2 linked regions of the Homo sapiens genome follow. The protein of the gene in region 1 interacts with the protein of each later gene in a pairwise test. Each region holds a gene or a part of one and is shown on either strand. Other genes may lie near its edges.

What was found.
Region 2: the proteins of DCDC2B (region 1) and ZNF574 interact in binary tests that used the Homo sapiens proteins (3 or more experiments, as listed by UniProt).

What each region holds. Positions count from the first base shown.
Region 1 is NC_000001.11:32,206,568-32,210,474, forward strand, and holds the start of DCDC2B (doublecortin domain-containing protein 2B), read left to right. Parts: upstream 1-2,521; 5' UTR 2,522-2,526; coding exon 2,527-2,792; intron 2,793-3,907. Other genes in the region: IQCC (IQ domain-containing protein C), read left to right, coding at 1-194, 435-553, 673-1,515.
Region 2 is NC_000019.10:42,074,380-42,078,286, reverse strand, and holds the start of ZNF574 (zinc finger protein 574), read right to left. Parts: upstream 2,122-3,907; 5' UTR 2,001-2,121; intron 1,804-2,000; exon of another isoform or gene 1,783-1,803; intron 1,742-1,782; exon of another isoform or gene 1,677-1,741; intron 1,659-1,676; exon of another isoform or gene 1-1,658. UniProt on the Homo sapiens protein: May be involved in transcriptional regulation.

The sequences.
Region 1 (3,907 bases):
GCTGTGGAACCACTTCCCATGTGAAGAGTCTGAGGGAGAGGCCACCTGGGAGGAGATGGTGCTGAAGAAGTCAGGAGAGAGCTCAGCAAATCAAGGAAGCCTCTGCAGAGATCACAGCTCCTGGCTTCAGATGAAGCAGAACAGGAAACCCAGCCAAGAGAAGACCAGAGACACGACAAGGATGGAGAATCCAGGTACCTCTCTGCAAAGATCAGGGCAAGCCCCTGACCCTCACTGTGCCTCAGCCTCCCATCTGAAGAGTGAAAGGCTTGCGCTAGATAAGCTGCATCCCTTTCCCGTCTTCCCTCTGCCGGGATAGGGCCACCACATGGTTGGGCAGTGCAGGGGAGGGAGTTTCCAAAGTCTAAGGCTAGGCCATTTCCCAGGGTCTGGTCCCTCAAGGTTTTCTCCTTCCTTTCTTCCCTCCTTCACAGAAGCCACAGATCAAAGACTGCCCCACAGCCAACCTCAGCTTCAAGAGCTTCAGTACCACCGCAGCCACTTGGCCATGGAATTGCTGTGGCTGCAACAGGCCATCAATAGCCGTAAGGAGGTAACACTAACCTGGAACTCTTTCTGAACATTTAGGGTCAAGGGTGGGGGTTAGGGAGAGACGACCTGCCATGCCCAAGCAGGCCTGCTTGGTACAATGTATGTTCTCTCCCCCAACAGTACCTACTTCTTAAACAAACACTGAGATCCCCAGAGGCGGGCCCGATCAGAGAGGAACCCCGCGTGTTCCTAGAACATGGGGAACAGGCCTGTGAGAGGGACCAGTCACAACCAAGCGCACCACTGGAGGACCAGTCCTACAGAGACAGGACCACTGGAGAGCTAGAACAGGAGGATGACTCCTGTCACAGGGTCAAATCACCCCACAGATCCCCAGGAAGTTTGGCCACTACACAAAAAAACATTGCTGGGGCTAAGTGCAGAGAACCATGCTACAGCAAGTCTGGACCACCGTCGTCTATACCATCAAACAGCCAGGCCTTGGGGGACAGGCTCACCAAAGGGCCAGACGATGGAAGACAGACCTTTGGAGGGACCTGCCTGCTGCAGATGAAAATCCTGGAGGACCAGACCCCCAGAGGTTTAAAACCTAGGAACCATTGTCCCAGGAAGTCCAGGACACAGCTGTCTGCACTCTATGAGGACTCAAATATTAAGGAGATGTCTCCCAGAAAACTAGACCACAAAGAGCCTGACTGCCGAACAGTCAGGACACAAGAGTTGGGCCTCTCAGAGGACCACATCATCTGGGATGGTACCTTGGGGGGGCCAGAGCATAGTGTCCTCGATCTCTGGAGGACTAAACCACCCAAAGGCCAGGCCCCCACTGATAGAAGCTCCAGAGATGGAACCTCCAATGAGCCTAGTCATGAAGGACAGAAAAAGCAGAGGACTATACCATGGAGATCAAAGTCACCTGAGATTCTGTCTTCTACAAAGGCAGGCTGTACAGGAGAGGAACAGTGGAGGGGCAGGCCATGGAAAACAGAACCACCTGGCTAGACCCTAGGAAGCCAGGAGAGGATCAGGTTCCAAAGGGGAATGCTATGAAAGGGCAGTGAGACAAGACCTCATCCTACCTCCCTGACCAGCTCTGGCTTCTGCTCCTGCCCCTGGCCATTGGTGACTAGTGGGGCCAAGAGAAGCTGGAGCAGAGAGCTGGCATGAGTATAGGGAAGGAGGAAGGACACATTTTCAATCCTCTGCCTGTAGCTCAATCCAAATTTGTGGATAAGGGGCCGGGTGCAGTGGCTCACACCTGTAATCCCAGCACTTTGGGAGGCCAAGGTGAGTGGATCACCTGAGGTCAGAAGTTTGAGACCAGCCTGACCAACATGGTGAAATGAAACCCCATCTCAACTAAAAATATAAAAATTAGCCAGGCGTGGTGGTGCATGCCTGTAGTCCCAGTTACTCGGGAGGCTGAGACAGGAGAATCGCTTGAACCCAGGAGATGGAGATTGCAGTAGGCCAAGATGATGCCACTGCACTCCAGCCTGGGCTACAGAGCGAGACACGGTCTCAAAAAACAAATGTGTGGCTAAGGAGTTACCTGGGGGAAGTAGAATGAGAGGTCTGTTGGGAATAAAGGTTTTTCTTAGATTCTGAGTCTGGCTGCTTTCATTTCTGCTTCTGGCCAGGACAGATTCTGGGCCCTGCCGTTCACTTCCTACTGGCATGGGGCATTGACCCCGGAGCCAGCTGGGAGCCATGGCCCAGGAAAAGATCTAGCCATCCTCCTTAGGGAACAGCTCCCAAAGCTGATCCCCAATTGAGCTCAGCCTTGTGCTTTAGAGTGGCAAGGAGGCTCTGGAGAGTAGGGTAACACCTATGTTTAAGTGTGATCTCCCCAGGGCAGATGGGATAAAACCCTGAATGCAGATAAATGCTCCTGCCACAGTCTCCCTCTGCCTTCCTGGGTGAGAGGGCAGGACTCCACCTCTGATTGGCAATGTTCCCAGCCCTTCCTTGGTTGCCTGGCAACAGGTCTGTTTCTCTGACTGAGGATACACTATGGCAGGTGGCAGTCCAGCAGCCAAGAGGGTAGTGGTGTACCGGAATGGGGACCCATTCTTCCCAGGCTCCCAGCTGGTGGTGACTCAACGCCGCTTCCCCACCATGGAGGCCTTCCTCTGCGAGGTGACATCAGCTGTGCAGGCCCCACTGGCTGTGCGTGCCCTCTACACACCTTGTCATGGCCACCCTGTCACCAACCTGGCAGACTTGAAGAACAGAGGGCAGTATGTGGCCGCTGGATTTGAACGATTCCACAAGCTCCAGTGAGTGGGCTGGGGCTGGTCAAACAGCCTAGCAAGGGAGGTAACGGCAAGAGCGTGTATTCAGTACCTACCATGTATGTACCAGCATGTTACTGGTACTTACTGAACTCTATGTAGGGGGGGTGGTTTTGCCTCCATTAGAAAGGGAAAACAGACAGAAAACCTGCCTAAAAGTACATAACAAATAGTTGAACTGAAATTCAAATAGAATTCTGTGTGTTACTAATGTTTATGCCCATCACAGCCAAGATCAGCCTGTGGGAAGACCACTCTCCCACAGGGTGAGCCCCTTTTTCCAAAAGCTCTTCTTGCTTGGACCCCCTATCACTGAACACTCTAAATCCACCCATCCATTCCTCCCCACTGTGCATAGGCATCCCAGACTCTCCCGTTAGGCTAGGGCCATCCTCTGTTGCAGGAGGAGACTGTCTCCCAGGGTGGGAGAAGAATTTGAGTACCTGAGTCTCTGACTCATGTCTGGCTTCCAGGTCCTACTCTTAGCTCTCAGCTGAGGTTGCTTACTATAATGTAAGGATCAAGAGGGAGTAAGTGGCTGGGCACGGTGGTTCACGCCTGTAATCCTAACACTTTGGGAGGCCAAGGCGGGTGGATCACCTGAGGTCAGGTGTTCGAGACCAGCCTGGCCAACATGGCGAAACTCTGTCTCTACTAAAAATACAAAAATTGGCCAGGCACGATGGCTCACACCTGTAATCCCGGCACTTTGGAAGGCCAAGGCGGGCAGATCACCTGAGGTCAGGAGCTCAAGACCAGCCTGACCAACATGGAGAAACCCCATCTCTACTAAAACTACAACATTAGCTGAGCGTAGTGGCGCATGTCTGTAATCCCAGCTGCTCGGGTGGCTGAGGCAGGAGAATCGCTTGAACCTGGAGGCAGAGGTTGCAGTGAGCCGAGATCGTGCCACTGCACTCCAGCCTGGGCAATAAGAGTGAAACTCCATCTAAAAAAAAAAAAAAAAAAAAAAATCAGCCAGGCCTGGTAGCACGTGCCTATAATCACAGCTACTCAGGAGGCTGAGGCAGAAGAATCGCTTGAACCCGTGAGGCGGAGGTTGCAGTGAGCTGAGATCGCACAACTGCACTCCAGCCTGG
Region 2 (3,907 bases), on another chromosome or scaffold:
TCACAGTGGGCCCCACAGTTCCGCCCAGCACATGGGAACCTCCACTCAGACCTCCTTCCACTGACTCCTTTTCTTACCAACTCACCTCACCCCATTCCTCTCCAAGGTACCCAACTGAAACCCCATATAGGCCTTCCCCACCTGTTTCTCCCAGCCACACCCCTCCCATGGCCTCTGCTCCTTCTCCCAGGTTCTCAGACTTCTTTTTACACTCAGACCACTCAAACTGCCCAATGCCCCACCACTCCACTTTCAGCACTGTACAAGGTGCCACCCCTCCCCTTTACACGCAACCCCTGCTACCCACCAACTCTTCCTCAGGTGCCCAGATTCCTCACGTCAAACTATATCCCTTCCCCCCAGTCAAATTTTCTCACACTGGCCTAACCCATCTCCACACCCAGACTTTGCCCACCTTAACCACTTCATGATACGCAGCCCTGTTTAATTACTTAACCTCCTCTACAAATCAAGGCCCTCTCCTACAACCCTAACCCCCTATCCAGAATACCCAGACCCATTTTCACAAAAGCCTACTCCTCCCCGCTTCGGACCTAGGCCCTTCCACCACCCTAGCTCCTGTCTCCAGGGTATCTATCCACTCTTTACATTCATCACCTCTTCTTTGTACCAAGACCAAATCGACAATTCTAATCCCCTCTGAGATACCCAGATCCCCTCTTCCCATTGATTTAAACCCTTCCTGTTCATACACAGCCACTCATTCAGGGATGCCCATACCCTCATTTTATATCAACCTATGCCTCTCTTGCAAACAGAGCCCCCCCTCAAATCCATCTCAGGAATATCCAGATCCTCCTCCACATTATTAACCTAATCTTTTTTAATTTGCTAGAAGACCCAACCCACCCTAACCCATTCTAGGGATGCTCAGACCCTCCTCTTCGTAGCAACATAACTCCTCTTCTTTGTGTAAAGATCCACACACCCATCTTTCACAATGGCTTAAGCTCCTTTTACACACACCCCTCGTGCTGCCCAAACCCCCTTTAGGGATACCCGGACCTCCTATTCTCATACAGAACCTCCATCACCACCTTAATCCAGCACAGACCCCTCTTCCTCACACTCAAGCCCCTCTCACCAGCCTCCTATTCTGGGGGTACTCAGACCCCCCAGCGTCTTAGCAACCTCTCAGTCTCATTCCAGGAATTCCCAGGCACCCCTCACTTTAGCACACAGATCTCTCCCACCCTACTTCCTCCCCTTCCAATAACCAAATCCCATCTTCACCTTGGCCTAATTACCTGTACTTAAAAAAGACTACCTTCCCCAGCTCATTCTAGGGACACCCAGACACCCTTTTAAAATACACTTAATCCTTCTTTGTACAAAGACTCCTTTCCACGCATTCCAAGGGTACCCAACCTCCTGACACATTGGTTTAAGGCCTCTTCACATTAATTTAACCCCATCCATTACAACTGGACCCCTCCTTAGCTCTAAACCGTTCCCTTGGGGATATCGATTTCCTAATGTCTTCACACCAAAACCCCTCTCACCGCCCCAATTCTTTCCAGGAAGAACTAGATATTTTTCCCCTGCATTAACTTAATTATCTTTCTCACGCCCTAAGCCCCTAACTGGGCACCCACGTGCCGTCTAACCGGCCCAGCCCCTTCGTCCTGGACTTGCCACACCACCAAGTCCTTTACCCCAAACCCTGGGGAGCCGCGGAGCCCTCTTGGGACAGCTCTGAGGCCTCCCCTTCCCGCCCAGGTGCCCCACCAAAGCCTCAGCCCGAGCCCCGCCCCTCCTCACTCAGCCCCGCACGCGACTCCAGGCCCCTTCCCCACCCGCCGCTCCAGCCCGGCCCCCGCCCGGCTGCCCGCGCGCCGGGTCGGCCGTTGGTGCCGCTCCGCCCTAACTGCCCGGCGCGCACCCCCTCAGGCCCTCAGTGCGCAGGCGACCTGGCAAGAGGAGGCCGCGGCGGCAGGGAGCGCAGCCCGGCCGGCCTCTGCGCGCCCGCTCGCGCTCACCTGCTTCCGCCGTCTCGCACGCCCCGGGCCCGGGCCACGGCTCCCCTTGCACGGCCACCCTAACGCTGCGCCCGCTCTAGCTCTCGCCGTCGCCTCTCGCCTGCTCCGTAGCCTCGCTCTCGCCCCCAGCTACCCTCAGCAACGCCCCTCCCACCTTCCTCCTCGGCCGCCGCACGGACGGCCGGACGCAACCAATCATTGCCCGCTCGGGCCCTGCCGTTCGGCCAATCGACGTTCATGTCTCTGAGGCTTGGGCCAATAGTGAGGAGCGTCGAGATTCCCCGCAGCGCCCAACCAATCCTTTAGCGTCGTTCCCTCACCGGTCAGCCCTCGGGTGGATAGTGCCCGCCCCTTTAATCCTCCTTAGAGGATGCTCCTCCTCCTCCTCGACTCCGCCTCCGACGGCTCCAGAGGGGAACTCTGAGCGGAGGGCGGCGCGATGACGTTAGGCGGCGGAGCGCGGCCGCGGGCGCCATTTTGGGGACGCCGTGAGGGAGTCAGCGTTGGGGACAGGGAGAGGGAGGAAAAGAGCCTGGGAAATTGAGGCACGCGGCACCTTGAGGGCTGGAGCGGGGGAATGGAGGCACGGGAACCTTTGTGGTTTCCCCGAGGGTCAGAGGGAGAAAGTGAAACCACTTAGCGCGATGGGGAGAGGGCAAACTGCATGCAGCACCAGTCACATGGAGAGAGAAAAGGGAAACCAAGGTTCCAGACTCACTTTATTAAAAGGAGGGGAATGAAGGCAACAGGAAGAAACAGAGAAAAGACCGAGGGGACTTTTGGGAGGTGGAGAGAGGAGAAATGTCATAGGGGAAGCAAGGAGAGCGAGGATATGGAGAAAAAGAAGCAGGGACAATTTCATTGGAAGAAATAGGGAGTGTGGTGGGTAGAGGACCTGAAGGACAATCGGGGTGAGAGCCTGAAGGAAGTGAGCCGGTAACGGGCGGACTCCACTCCACCTCCTTCCGGGGTGACTCTGACCCTTACACCTCGAGATTGGGGCCCCATGTGTCCAAGGGGCTCTGGCCATTCCTACTCACCTCGTTCCTGCGCCCCTCAGGGCCTTGGGAGGGAGTTGCCCCAGTACTGTTAGAAACGTTTCCAGGCTGGGCGTGGTGGCTCACGCCTGCAATCCCAACATTTTGGGACGCTGAGGCGGGTTCACTTGAAGTCAGGCATTCGAGACCCACCTGGCCAACCTGGTGAAACTACCATCTTTACTAAAAATACAAAACATTAGCTGGGCGTGGTGGCTCGTGCCTGTAACCCCAGCAACTCGGGAGGCTGAGGCTCGAGATTTGATTGCACCCAGGAGGCCGAGGTTGCAGTGAGCCGAGATCACGCCACTGCACTCCCGCCTGGGCGACAGAGCGAGACTCCATCTGAAAGAAGAAAAGAAACATTTCCAGACCTACTCCTTGAACCCAAACACAGAGGAATTTCAACTTATCGGATGAGGAAACTGACTCTCAGAATTGTGTTATTTATTTACTTACCTGAAGCCACTATGGGATGCGTCTCACAGTGAGACCCGGGGCCAATTCTATGGCCATTTGGTCACTAGATGTCCTAACCTTCTCATGGATTAAATTCCCTAACACCAGGCATGTATAGTTAAAACAGATTCCCGGATTGGAATCCTGGTTCTAGGGCAAGTCAACTGTCCTGAGCCTAAGTTTCTAATCTGTGAAATGGGGCTAATAACAGCCCCATTTCATGTGAGCCCCATTTCATCTCATGTGAGGCAGAGAGTAAAAGACATCTAGGAGTTACTCATTTTATTTTTATTTTATTTTATTTTATTTTATTTTATTTTATTTTATTTTATTTATGAGACAGAGTCTTTCTCTGCCGCCCAGGCTGGAGTGCAGTGGCGCGATCTCGGCTCACTGCAACCTCCGCCTCCC